Linked DNA regions of Homo sapiens. The protein of the gene in region 1 binds, or shares a complex with, the protein of each later gene. Each region holds a gene or a part of one and is shown on either strand. Other genes may lie near its edges.

Region 1 (7,098 bases):
ACTCCCAATCTCAGGTGATCCACCTGCCTTGGCCTCCCAAAGTGCTAGGATTACAGGCGTGAGCCACCGCGCCCGGCCAAGTTTTAAAAATTTTATCAATATATTTGCAGGCAATGAAAAACACATTTCCCAGCCATAGTGAAATGAAAGCTCTATAGATATTTTTTAAAGTATTTCCTCTCCATTTTACACAAAATTCCCTCACACAGGATGACTTCTAATGTTTAAAAAAATCACAAATTTGGAGTACAAATGAATTAGTCTGAATAATTACTACTTATATGCTTTCTTAAATCATAAAGATTATTATACTTACCAGTGATGTCTGATCCTCAAAAGGTCTTGTAATATTTTTCCTAAGAATATCAAAAAAGTGACAATTTTAATAATCTAAATAAGTATATACAATTAATATATTAAGGTAATTTTATATTCAGATGATAAAACAATTGAAAGGATATTCATTCATTCAAATATTTATTCAGTGCCTGTTATATGCCAGGCTACCATTCTAGGAGCTAGTGATACTATACTACTACATTAAACAAGATGCTTGCTTTCATGGAGTTTATAGGCTCGTGGAAAATAAGTAGTCCTCTGTACATATGGATTCTGCATCCTTCTGCATCCATGGATTGATTTGACCAACCACGGATTGACAGTATTCAATAGACAAAGAAAGTGTGTTAAAAAAAAAAAAAAAAGCAGGGGGCGCCGAGCACAGTGGCTTACAACAGTGAAATATGATCGTGCCACTGCACTCCAGCCTGGGTAACAGTGAGACCCCGTCTCTAAAAAAAAAGTTAAGAAATAAAAAGAAAAAGGAACAATAAAAAGCAGGATAAACCAGAAAATACAGCATTATAACTATTTACATAGCATTTACATTATATTAGATATTATAAGTAATCGAGAGATGATTTAAAGTATATGCAACTTACTTTTATGGGAAGCATTTTTTAAAAAAAGGATACAGGAGGAAGTGTGTGGGTTATATGCAAATACTAGGCCATTTTATGTAAGAGACGAGCATACCCAGATTTTAATAAGGGGAGGTTTCTGGAACCCATCGCCCACAGATACTGAGGGATGACTGTAGCTTATTCCAGGGCTGTGGTAAGGAAAAAGACAAGATGAACCCAGATAATTTTGTGATGTTAGAAAGTAAGGAAGTGCTCAAAAACAGGAGGCATGTTGAAAGGTCATAGGAACCAACGTAAAAGAGTTCCCAGCTGGGAGCAGTGGCTCACGCCTGTAATCCCAGCACTTTGAGAGGCTGAAGCTGGTGGATCACCTGAGGTCAGGAGTCTGAGACCAGCCTGGCCAACATGGTGAAACCCTGTCTCTACTAAAAATACAAAAATTAGCTGGGCACCTGTAATCCCAGCTACTCAGGAGGCTGAGGCAGGAGAATCGCTTGAACCCAGGAGCCAGAGGTTGTGGTGAGCTGAGGTCGCACCACTGCACTCCAGGCTGGGTGAAAGAGTGAGACTCCGTCTCATACTAAAAAAACAAACAAAAGAAAAGGTGGGGGGGGGGGGGGTTCCCAATTGCCAAACAGAACAATTTAAGCAACAAAATTAAGAACACTGGATTATAATCCAGAAGAATATATGAGGAAAGCACAACATTTTTGTAGTGTTCTTGACAAACATGCATAACCTCAATCAATTCATGAGAAAATTTAAACCCAAATTGAGGGATAATTTACAAAATAACTGACAAGTACTTGTCAAAAATGTCAAGGTCATCAAAGACAATGAAAGACTAAGGAACTGTCACAAATTGGAGAAGACTAAGGAGGCATGAAAACTAAATGCAACATGGGATCCTGAAGAGAAAAAGAGTATTAAAAGGAAAACTAGGGCCGGGCACGGTGGCTCACGCCTGTAATCCCAGCACTTTGGGAGGCCGAGGTGGGCAGGTCACCTGAGGTCGGGAGTTCGAGACCAGCCTGACCAACATGGAGAAATCCCGTCTCTACTAAAAATACAAAATTAGCCGGGCGTGGTGGCGCATGCCCGTAATCCCAGTTACTCGGGAGGTTGAGGCAAGAGAATTGCTTGAACCCAGGAGGCAGGTGTTGCAGTGACCTTAGATCATGCCACTGCACTCCAGCCTGGGCAACAAGAGTGAAACTCCGTCTTAAAAAAAAAAGAAAAGAAAGAAAAAAGAAACTGGGCCGGGCGGGGTGGCTCACGCCTGTAATCCCATCACTTCGGGAGGCCAAGGCGCGCAGATCACCTAAAGTCAGAAGTTTAAGACCAGCCTGGCCAACATGGTGAAACCCTGTCTCTATTAAAAATACAAAAATGAGCTGGGCATGGAGGTGCATGCCTGTAATCCCAACTCAGGAGGCTGAGGCAGGAGAATCACTTGAACCAGGGAGTCAGAGGTTGCAGCGAGGCGAGATCATGCCACTGCACTCCAGCCTGGCAACAAAGCTAGACTCCGTCTCAAAAAAAAAAAAAAAAACCACACAAAAATTAGCCAGGCGTGGTGGCACGTGCCTATAATCCTAGCTACATGGGAGGCCAAGGCAGAAGAATTGCTTGAACCCAGAGTTAGAGGTTGTAGTGAGCAGAGATCATGCCACTGCACTCCAGCCGGGCGACAACAGGACTCCGTCTCAAAAGAAGGAAAAAAGAAAAACTGGTGCTAATCAAATATGTCTGTCATTTGATTAACATGAGTGAATCGGTGTTAATTTATTAGTTTTGATCATTGCATTACGGTTATGCAAGATGTAACATTAGGGGAAGCCAGGTGAAGGGTATATGGGAATTCTGCATTATTTTTGCACTTTTCTGTAAATCTGTATTTCAAAATAAAATATATATGCTATGGTTACAACTATGCAAGGACATTCAATACAAATGAAAAAAACAGACCAAAAGAAAGAAATTAAAATATTAATAACTGTAAGGAATTTTAATATCTTTTTAAAAAGTTTTTGTTTTCCAAATCTTCCATAAAGTGGTTACTTTTATAATGAAACAAAATCATTTAAAATACAGTAAAAGAAATCATGACTTACTTTTTATATAGTACACCGTATGGTTTTTTCAGTGCATACTGTAAAACAAAATTTATAGCTTTCAAAACAAAACACATTCTGAAAAGCAGAAATAAAAATAAAGCATCATAACAGTCACTCTCCAAGATTGCTCTGGGGCCTCAATCTTATTCTGAGGGCTTCTGCCTGGCTCCCTTTTCATCACTTACAGTAACTTGAAATGTAAGCTTAATATTCTTGGACTAGACTTTCCTATTTAAAAGTTTCTATGCCCTGTCAATAGTCTATCCAACTTAAACAATTTCCTTCATTTCTTTAAACTCGACTTAGTCCAGTCTCTCTCTAGGGAAACAATTCCAGGTGCAGTGGCTCACGCCTGTAATCCCAACACTTTGGGAGGACAAGGCAGATCACTCAAGCCCAGGAGTTCGAGACCAGCCTGGGCAACATGGCAAAACCCTGTCTCTACAAAAAACTGCAAAAATTAGCCAGGCATAGTGGTGCATGCCTGCAGTCCCAGCTACTTGGGAGGCTAAGGCGGGAGGATCACCCGAGCTCAGGAATTCGAGGCTGTGGTGAACCGTGATTGCACCACTGCACTCCAGCTCTGGTGATAGAGTGAGACCCTGTCTCAGAAAAAAAAAAAAAAAAAGTAGTAGACAAAAACAGAAAAAATAAATTCTATCACGAAAGGCTGACAGATTGAAATAATGTTGCGTGGAGATCAGAAAACTTAGAAACAGTAATAATGATGACAATTAGAATACTAGCCAGAGGTTAAACACAGCTCTTTAAAAAATGCCTATTATTCAATGTTCTTCATTTTTTTCCTAGTTCTACCTATCCACAAATAATCATTCATTTTATTTTATTTATTTATTTTTGAGACAGGGTCTCACTCTGTTGCCCAGGCTGGAGTGCAATGGCGTGATTAAAGCTTACTGCAGCCTGAAACTCCAGGGCTCAGGTGATCCTCCCATCTCAGCCTCCCAAGTACAGACACATGCACCACGCCCAGCTAATTTTTGTATTTTGAGTGGAGATGGGGTTTCACCATGTTGTCCAGGCTGTATTTTATTATTTTTTTAAATTTAATTTATAGAGATGGGGTCTCACTTTGTTGTCCAGGCTGTCATCCTAGGCTTAAGTGATCCTCCCACCTCAGCCTCCCAAAGTGCTGGGATTACAGGTGTGAGCCACCACACCTGGCCTATAATCATTTATTACTTGTATGGCCAGTACTGCTCTACCATAGAGAATAACAAAGATGTCATCAGGTACTACCTTGCATTAGAGAAATGGGTAAATGAGGGAAACAATGAAAAATAAGGTATAATAATCATTCATCAACTATCAGAGTTGGTGAACAAAGAAAATGCAACAGTAAAATCTACCTTTTTAAGTACTAAAACTTTTGATGATTCTTGGCCAACTATTTCCCTGTTTCCGTGTAATAAACATTGCCACCTCTTCTTGATGACTCAGAGTCATCATGATGAATTTTAATTATTGTAGTAATCTGTAATATTGTGCTGCTTTTAAAGCTTACTTAAATATGCAGGGTCATTGTGCTGATGGATACTAGAAGGAGAGGGGCAGTTTCCCGTTAGCACAATGAAATTCAGACAAACATTTCAAAAAAGGGATGGGCCTATATAAGGCATTCAGACATCTGAATTGACTATGCTTATCAGGCATAGAGTTTGGTCAAGTTTAAAATATATTCAAAGCCAGGCATGGTGGCTCACTCCTGTAATCTCAGCACTTTGGGAGGCCGAGGCGGACAGATCATGTCAGGTCAGGAGTTTGTGACCAGCCTGGCCAACATGGTGAAACCCTGTCTCTACTAAAAGAACACAGAAATTAGCTGGGTGTGGTGGCTCCCAGCTACTTGGGAGGCTAGAGGCAGGAGAATCGCCTGAACCCGGGAGTCAGAGGTTGCAGTAAGCCAAGATGGCACCACTGCACTTCAGCCTGGGCAACAGCGTGAGACTCCACCTCAATAACAACAACAAAAATGTATTCGATTACTTAATTGATTTAATTCAAAGATCTATTGGCTGTACTCAAGGCCTAATTAGTCAAATAACCTACTAGATATCTCCACATACTATGTCTTTTTTTTTTTTTTAGTTGGAGTCTTGCTCTGTTACCCAGGCTGGAGTAAGTGCAATGGCGTGGTCTCAGCTCACTCCAACCTCCATCTCCCAGGTCCAAGCAGATTTTCCGGCCTCAGCCTCCCTAGTAGCTGGGATTACAGGCGCCCACCACCATGGCTGGCTAATTTTTGCATTTTTAGTAGAGACAGGATTTCACCGTGTTAGCCAGGCTGGTCTCGAACTCCTGACCCCGTGATCCGCCCACCTCGGCCTCCCAAAGTGCTGGGATTACAGGTGTGAGCCACTGTGCCTGGCCCATACTATGCCTTTCTTTCATAGATTACATATATATTGAGTACCTACTATGTCCAGACACTGGGCTGTACACTAGGCTACAGAGGTAGAAAAAACAAAGCTTTTATTTTCATTACTTAAATTACATGTCCCAAACCGAACCTTTCACCTTTCCCTCCAAACCTGCTCCGCTTGATACATTTTCTAATTGGCATTATTGCCCATCAGGCACTCAAGCCAAACACCTGGGAAGTCATACTTTTCACTAGTTCCCAACTCTTCTTTCCTCAACATCTATTCTTTCTGGTCATTTCTCATTTTCATTGCCACCACTGGACTCCAGATGCTCTTCACCTAGCTGGCAGCAATGGCTTAGTTTCCTACATTTGCTCTCAACCCTCTCTAATCAAGCCAATTAAAAGGACTGATGGTATCTCTTGCTTAATATCTTTCAATGATTACACGGAGCTTTCAGATTAGAATTCAAATTTCATGTTACTATGTGACCCATGCCTCCTCTTCTAGCCTCATCTAGCCCACTCTCCTTTGGCCATGCCCAATTATTTACAGTTCTCCAAATGCATCAATGCTCCTTCATACTCCCTTTTGCACAAACTTCTTTCTCAGCCTCAGAGGATCTTCTCTTTCTCTCCCACTTCTTGCACCAACTTCTCCTTCAAAATGAAGCTGCAGTGTTATCTCTGGGGGAACCTACCCTGTGTGGGGGTCCCCCTATGTGATTTTTTTTTTTTTTTTTTGAAATGGAGTCTCTCTCTGTCACTCAGGCTGGAGCAGTGGCACAATCTCGACTGACTGTGACCTCCACCTCCCAGGTTCAGGCGATTCTCCTGCCTCAGCCTCCCGAGCAACTGGGACTACAGGCGCCCGCCACCACACCCGGCTAATTTTTGTACTTTTAGTAGAGACGGGGTTTCACCATGTTGGCCAGGCTGGTCTCGAACTTCTGACTTCGTGATCCTCCTGCCTCGGCCTCCCAAAGTGCTGGGATTACAGGCGTGAACCACCGTGCCTGGCCTCCCCTATGTGATTTTAACTGTTTCCCACCCTACCCTGTCCATGCCTCCAGCACAGCACAGTGTAAGAACTTTTTACATGTCTATCTCTCTAAGCTCACTGAAAGAACTGTGTCTCACCTATTAATTCCCAGCAGAGGCACAGTAACCGGTGTTGTTGAATGACTAAATATACAGCAATATGCAGTTACTTCTCTTTACAAATTAGATTTTTTCCTAAAATGTAAGTAAGCCAAATTCTAGTAATTGAAAACAGTTTAAATTTACTAAGGGAGACCTTCACTCTACCAGACCCACCTGTGCTCCTAAAAAACAATAATAAAATTTACTAAGAGAACTAGTTGCTTTAAGAAAAGGTGCCACGCAAGGTAAATAAACCCCCAACTTTAGCTCTTCTCTAAGACTAGTAGTTCTTATGGTAAGGCAAGCTTATCTACGTATTTCTCCGACAGCCCATCCTAGCATGCTGAAAATTCTAAAATGACTTCAATACCTTTTAAAGATTAAGTATATATACTTACCACATCTTTAAGTACTTTTGTCACTGTTGCATTTGCATTTCCCCCTTTAATCAGCATGGCATTTTTAATATTTTCATTGAGTTTCGGTTCTCTCTTCTCAAGGAATCTCTTGGCTCTTTTCGTTTTGGGCTTTC
Region 2 (6,889 bases), on another chromosome or scaffold:
TTTTTAAAAAACAGACATCAGTTTTACTACTTTGAATATTATATTTGATACCAAAAGAAGTATAAGTTTAGAAGTGGTATCACTGAAACCATTATAATTGAACTGCTTTTTTTTTTTGAGATGGCCCCTTCCTCTGTTGCCCAGGCTGGAGTGGAGTGCAGTGGCGTGATCTGGGCTCACTGCAACCTCCGCCTCCCAGGTTCAAACGATACTCCTGCCTCAGCCTCCCAAGTAGCTGGGACTACAGGTACCAGCCACCGTGTCTGGCTAATTTTTTTATTTTTAGTAGAGATGGGGTTTCACTGTGTTGGCCAGGCTGGTCGCGAACTCCTGACCTCAGGTGATCCGCCCGCCCCGGCCTCCCAAAGTACTGGGACTCTACAGGAGTGAGCCACTGCGCACGGCCTGCTTTGTGTTTTTCAGAAAGTAAACAAAAATAATCTGTACCAGGTATCCAGGTAACCGGCTTCAAGTACAATTTCTACCCAGTAGTCAGAAAGTTAAAAGTCACACTAGATAAGACATCTTTATTACTTAATCTTTAAAACAGTCACTTGCCTATTCAATTCTGAAACTGTTTGTTTTCTTTCCCTCCCCCGCACTCCCGCTCTGATACACAAACTTGTTGTAAAAATAATGCAGAAACATATACGTCAATCTAAGTCTCTGAAATATGGCCAACTCTACCTCGCCGTATATCCAACATTAAAAAGAAAAAAAAAGGCTGTTTAAGAATAGAACTCATTCCCGGTTTCCACCAAATTATTTCCCTAATTCTTAAATCCTCAAATAAGTTCTTAATCTCCAAAGTCTCGGTTGTGGGAAAAACATTAATTTGTGCAGTCCAACACTTACATACTTTCTTGACGGAAGGGCAATCCTGTCCCTTTAAACTCAATGAAGGCAGCGGCCAGGTCCTTCTGAGTCCCCGTATAATTGCCTAGAACTTAACATTTAGTATTCATAGTCCTTGGTTTACAGACGGGTCCGACAGTTAGAAACTATTACTTCCTCCTCTTTCCTCCTGGGCGCTGTCCTCCTTTTCTCTTGCCACCCAAGCCAGGCGGCCCAGAATTCATCTTGCCTCCCAAGCCCCCTTTCCTCTTCCCTCCCTGGCTGGGCGGGCCCCCTTTCCTCTTGCCCCCAGGCCCCTGCCGGCCTCCCTTTCTCTTGCCCTTCTGGCTCATTTTCCTCCTCTTGGCGGCCTCCTCCTGGTCCTCCTCCCTCATCTGCTTATTGGTGGCCCTAGTCACATCCAGCTGAGGCTTCTTGCTGTTCATGACACGAAGCAGCTCCAACTGGTTCTTTTTCTCGGCTGCAAAGTCCCCGAAAAGGGGTTGAAACTTCCTTTTCTTGCCGGAGCCCCGGGGCACCTTCTCCTTGGGGAGGCGCTCCTGAAAGCGCCCCACAGAGGCGGTGGAGACCTTGGCCACTTGCATGGCGCGGCCCAGCTCCTCCTTACTCTGGTGTCCGGTAGGGTGCAAGCCGGCCGCGCTGGGCAGCTGCATCTTGTGCGCGCGGGCCAGGTTACGCAGCCGGTTCAGCTCGTTCTTGGCCACCCTTTCCTTCTTGGCCTGAATCCGCTTGGCGAACTGGTCCTCCAAGGGGTCGGCATTGCCGGGCACCTCAATCAGCCATTCTTTGGTGTCGTCCCGGGCGCGCTGGTAGCCCCAGCGCCGCCGCCACTGGCCACTCACCTCGTCCCACACCAGGTTGGTCTTCTTCTTGGGACGGATGCCCTTGAGGCGCGCGAACTGCTGCCAGCGTGTAAGTGGCCGCGGTCGGGGCAGAGGCTTCTCTCGCGGCAGGCGTGTGGTGGGCTCCGGCAGCCGCGCCACTATCGCCTCTTCCACGCGCTCCGTGGGCAGCTGCCACAGCTGGTTGATGAGCAGTTGCGTGTTGTCCCGCGCCAGGGCCTGTAGCTCGGCCTCCGGCGTGGGTCCGGCGCACCGCAGCCCGGTCGGGGGGTTCCGGTCCGACGCCAGCAGGTTGCCCAGGTCAAACTGCAGCTCCAGCTCCTTGTGCACCGTGATGCGTTGCAACTTCTCTGCCTCGTCCTGCTCTGCCTTTGCGAGCAGCTCCTCCACGCTCTGGCCCTCCATGGCTCCGGCTCGGCTCACTCGCTTTGGGGCTGCAGCTGAAGTTACTTTTCCTACAGTGGCGGCCCAAACTCCGGCAGCATAACCACGTGCAGATGCCGGGATGCCCAATCCGGAAAAGAAAGGTTCGCTTCCGGAGCGTCCGGAAGCGGCTCGCAATCCGGGCGACCAGAGGAAAGGCCGGCAGAGGGCGGTATGGAGAGATGATGGGATTAGAAGCGGGACCTTTAGGCTGGCGCCAGATAGAGGCGGAGCTGGCCCGAGCAGGCCGCACTGCTAGTTCCAGAGCAGGATTGGGACTACGATTCCCAGGATGCAGGGGGCGGGAGGCGGTCTAGAGGGCGGTCCAGGGACAGCTCGGGGGGCCGCCTAGGGGGTGGTCCAGGGGGCGGTCCGGGGACAGTCTCGCAGGCGGTCTAGAGAGGGCGGTCCCGGGGGGCGATCTAGGGGGCGGTCTTGGGGGGGGCAGTTCAGGGAGTGGTCTTAGGATGGTGGTCCGGGGACAGTCTTGGGGCTCAATCCGGAGGGGCGGGCCGGAGGGTTTGTCCAGGGGCGCGGTCCGGGACCGGGGCGGGTACAAATTCCTGGGACTGCCTGTGGTGTGGGGTTCCAATCAAGTGCGTGTTACAATTTCAGTGTAAATCCGTTGTGAAGATGTTTAGACAATCACCCTTCTTAGGGCCAAATAGTTTCACTGGAGTCATAGTCGGCTTTCAGGGTTCCTAGTTGTGGCCCGAGAAAGATAACATCCCAAAGATACACATAGAGCTAATTGTAGAAGATTCGTTTTGTTTTGGGAGTCAGTGGCTCTGGCAATGAAGCCACCCCGAGTGGGCGCGGGTGTGCACCGACCCTAGTGAGCTAGCTGACTCGGAGATCCGGGATTCTGCAGTTACAGAACCTAGTCTAGTTCAATTAATCTAGTACAGTGCTGAAACTAAGCCACGCTCTGCAGTTACACTGCCTGGGTTCCAATCCTGACTGTGCCACTGTTGGTCCTTCAGCAATTTTACTTGTTGAGGCCGTTTTAAGGCCTGCGAGATAATGATAATAATACTTCCTAGGGTGGTTATAAGATAAATGAGTTAATATCGTCCAAGGGAGGGTTAGACGAGGGCCTGGAGCGTATGAGTACTCAGTACAAATTAGCCAAATACCGATTATTATTTCATTTTCATAGGCTCTGGGAGGTAAGTGCTACATGGTGTTAAGTATGAGTCAAACGGCCTACAATCAGGTATCAGGTCACCATTACTTGGAGAGGATGTTTGATCTAAGCCTTATTTATAAATTGACAAACATAAAACATTAGTTACTGCTACATGGTAAGAACTCAGTATGTGTTAGCTATTAGTATTAACTATGTTATTAATTATTGTATTAACTATATTATTTTCACAGATGAAACAAGGAGGGCTCAGAGAGGTGAAATGACTTATCTAAAGTTATGCAGTTAGGGAATATAAGAACAAGAGATATCTTAACTCTGGTTTTAAGTCTGTAGATCTATTCTCTGCAATGTCGTCCAAGCTCTTGATACTCATTAAAGTGTGGTCTGCATACCAGCAGCATAATATCCCCTGGGAGCTTGTTGGAAATGCAGAACGTCAGGCCTCACTCTAGATGTAATTTATCAGAACCTTTATTTTAATAAGATCTGTAGGTGACTAGGATGTACATTTGAGTATCAGAGGCACTGTTGATTGCGTGGTTTACAGGGTTTATCTTCCTTTCACTGGGGGCCAGGTTTATCCTAGAGGGGGTTATGCTGGAGAATTAACCAATGAAATTAACTTAATAGCAATTAGCAAATAGACTCAGTTTAGTTTCAGCATTGTGCTAGCCTTTCTCATCCAGAAGCATTTTAGAATTTGCTGTTTTTTTTTTCCCCTTGAACCTACTTTAACATTCAGCATCAAGGCTTTAACATCAGTCATCCCATGTAGCCAAGGCTAGGTCAAAGACCATATTAGCTAACTGCCTTGAGCCTTAAACCTTTGGGATTTGCCATAGGAGAGAGTTGAGTGTATTGATATGACTGCTATGGGCTTGGCTTGGTTTCTCATTCATTCATTCACTTGACAAACATTTAATTGAATGGCTACCATGTGGCAGACACTAGGTGCAAAGATAACTGAGACCTTATGGAATACTGGGGAAGAAAGGTAAAAAGAAATTGACTATATAATGTAACGTCATTGGACCTTTAATAGGAAGTACCAGTTATGTAGGAGTTAGCTTCTCTGTCAATCTTCTGAATTGGGAAAAAAAGAGCATAGGTTGACAAGTGTTAAATGGTATGATCTGGATCATACAGGTCAGCTCTTAATTGAACTCTGTTTTATGTTCAGTGTTTTTTTTTTTTTTTTTTTTTTAGACAGGGTCTCACTTTGTCACCCAGGCCGGAGTGCAGTGGCACGATCTTGGCTCACTGCAGCCTCAACCTCCTGGGTTCAAGTGGACCTCCTGCCTCAGCCCCCTAAGTAGCTGGGACTACAGGCACGTGCCACTACACCTGGCTCTTTGTGTGCATGTGTGTGTGTGTATTTTTTGTAGAGCCAGGTTTTGCCATGTAACCCAGGCTGGTCTCAAACTCCTGAGCTCAAGTGATCCACCTACCTTGGCCTTTCAAAGTGGTAGGATTACAGGCGTGAACGACCTTGCCCAGCCATATTCAGTGGTTTTTTATAGTCTAAACTGATTTTAATTTCCTTGAAGACTAGAGACTGATTTTTACTTCCACATAGTGCTGGGCACATATTAGGCATTCAACAAAATGATTGTTTAAAAGCATAAACACTATAGGGTTATCTAATTAAAGGTTATTACTATTGATTGTGTTAGATTCAAGGTGAGCAAAAACAGTAAGATTGGGATTTCGGGCTTAAAAAAAATCTTACTGAGGTAAGTGGGTAAGTTGTGGTCTCCAGGTTGCATTTGTATCATTCTTATTTTAGGCAAGACTATACAGTGCCCAGAGAAAGCAGGCTCTGGCCAGGCGTGGTGGCTCACACCTGTAATCTCAGAACACTGGGAGGCCAAGGCGGGAAGATCCCTTGAGACCAGGAGTTTGAGACCAGCGTGAATAAGATGGTGAGACCCCGTCTCTACAAAAAGTAAAAAAATTAGCTGGCTGTAGTGGCATGCGTTTGTAGTCCCAGCTACTCAGGAGGCTGAGGAAGGCTCCCTTGAGCCCAGGAGTTTGAAGTTACACTGAGCTGTGATGGTGCCACTGCACTGCAGCCTGGGCAACAGAGCATCTCCTGATTCTGAAATAAATAAATAAAAACCTCCTTCATTAAAAAAAGAAAAAGGAGGCCTACCAGAGATGTATAAATATATATGAATATATATTAATAGTACAGCAAATGGTGGTATATATTGTCTTTTTCTTTTGTTGGTTTCCCTTCTTCCTTATATCCCGTAAATACAGAGAGATCCTAAGTTTGGTCATCAGATCCCACTTTTTCTCTCTATGTGCTCCCTGTGACATGTCATCCACTTGCATGGTGCCAGCTACCACTTTTGTGCAGCTGGTTCTTACAGGTACATTTTTCTTTCTTTTTCGGAGCTCTAGGATTTAATCTTCAACTACCTACTGGGCTTTTCCGCCATATTCTAAACTCAATATGGCTAAAACGACATAACATATCATCATCTCCCAGATTTGCTTCTCCTTCATCCATCCATCCATCCATCCATCCATCCATCCATCCATCCATCCGTCCATCCCTCCCCTCTTTTTCTCCCAGGAAATGTTTATAGAAGGCCTTTGATGCCTGAGGCACTATGCCGACATTGAGTTGATGTTATCATCATTCTAGTCTAGAGCTTGGGCTTGAAACTATGACATCATCCTTGACTTTTCTCTTCCTATCTCCAAATCCAATCAATGTAAAAGTCTTGTTTGGCTTATCTCTATATTGTACCTTTTCCATTCCCACTGCCATGACCTTGCCACTATTTTCCTAGACTGGATCTCTTTCATCTGCTTCTCCATATTCTTTCTCCACTCTGTCCCTGGCTTCCAACTGGGTTTGGCCAGCAGGGGCAGTGACAGAAGATCAGAAGGCGTGAAGAGAGTGAGGGCACGCATGCAGATTGCCATCAAAAGTCCATCAAAAGGCCACAGCTCCCATCAGGTAGCCCTGTCCACGCAGCCATCTTCCTCCTGCTCCTCTAGCTGCTCCCTTGGTTGCTGCAGGCCTAGGAGTGATTATAGTTCTCTGCTAATGCAGCACTACCGTTATTGTCAGTTTCCTTAAACTGCCCACATCTCTGCAAGTATTCTTTGTTTATCTTTCTTAAATTACCCAGCTTGACCACTGCCTGTTTGCTGCCCTGACTGATATCCTGGGAACCATCCTAGGAGCATCCCAACATTTCCTGCTTCCATACTCTTTTCAGGGCAGTCCTGAAGCTTTACCTTTTGTGCATCTGGCCAAATCACTCTTCTCAAAGACCCTCCTTTCTCCTTAATGAAATAATGACTATTCTTGGTCTTGGATGTTTATGATCTGGCCCCAAGCAACTTTTTTTGTAGTCACATGTCATGATAGTCCTCCTTATGCTTGTTTTCCAAGTATTTCTTTCCCACTCTTATTTTCTATCTTAGCTCTCTCTAGAGCCTTAAGAACATTCCTCAAGAAAGGGAAAAGTGAGGTGAGGTGCAGGGCAGAAAAAGCAGCAATTATTGTAAAGTGAACCTGGAAGGGAGAGTTTTTCCCAAAGCAGGAATAAGAAGGTTAAAGCCATGAAAGCAATACCTTTCATGTTCCCTCAAAACATAA

What was found. Proteins that work in one complex are often made in the same cells at the same time.
Region 2: RPF2 (region 1) and RRS1 share a complex: the UniProt entries of both Homo sapiens proteins name them as parts of the hexameric 5S RNP precursor complex.

What each region holds. Positions count from the first base shown.
Region 1 is NC_000006.12:110,985,005-110,992,102, reverse strand, and holds part of RPF2 (ribosome production factor 2 homolog), read right to left. Parts: intron 7,098-7,098; coding exon 6,965-7,097; intron 3,076-6,964; coding exon 3,038-3,075; intron 357-3,037; coding exon 317-356; intron 1-316. UniProt on the Homo sapiens protein: Involved in ribosomal large subunit assembly. May regulate the localization of the 5S RNP/5S ribonucleoprotein particle to the nucleolus.
Region 2 is NC_000008.11:66,424,345-66,431,233, reverse strand, and holds RRS1 (ribosome biogenesis regulatory protein homolog), read right to left. Parts: upstream 2,221-6,889; 5' UTR 2,103-2,220; coding exon 1,005-2,102; 3' UTR 501-1,004; downstream 1-500. UniProt on the Homo sapiens protein: Involved in ribosomal large subunit assembly. May regulate the localization of the 5S RNP/5S ribonucleoprotein particle to the nucleolus.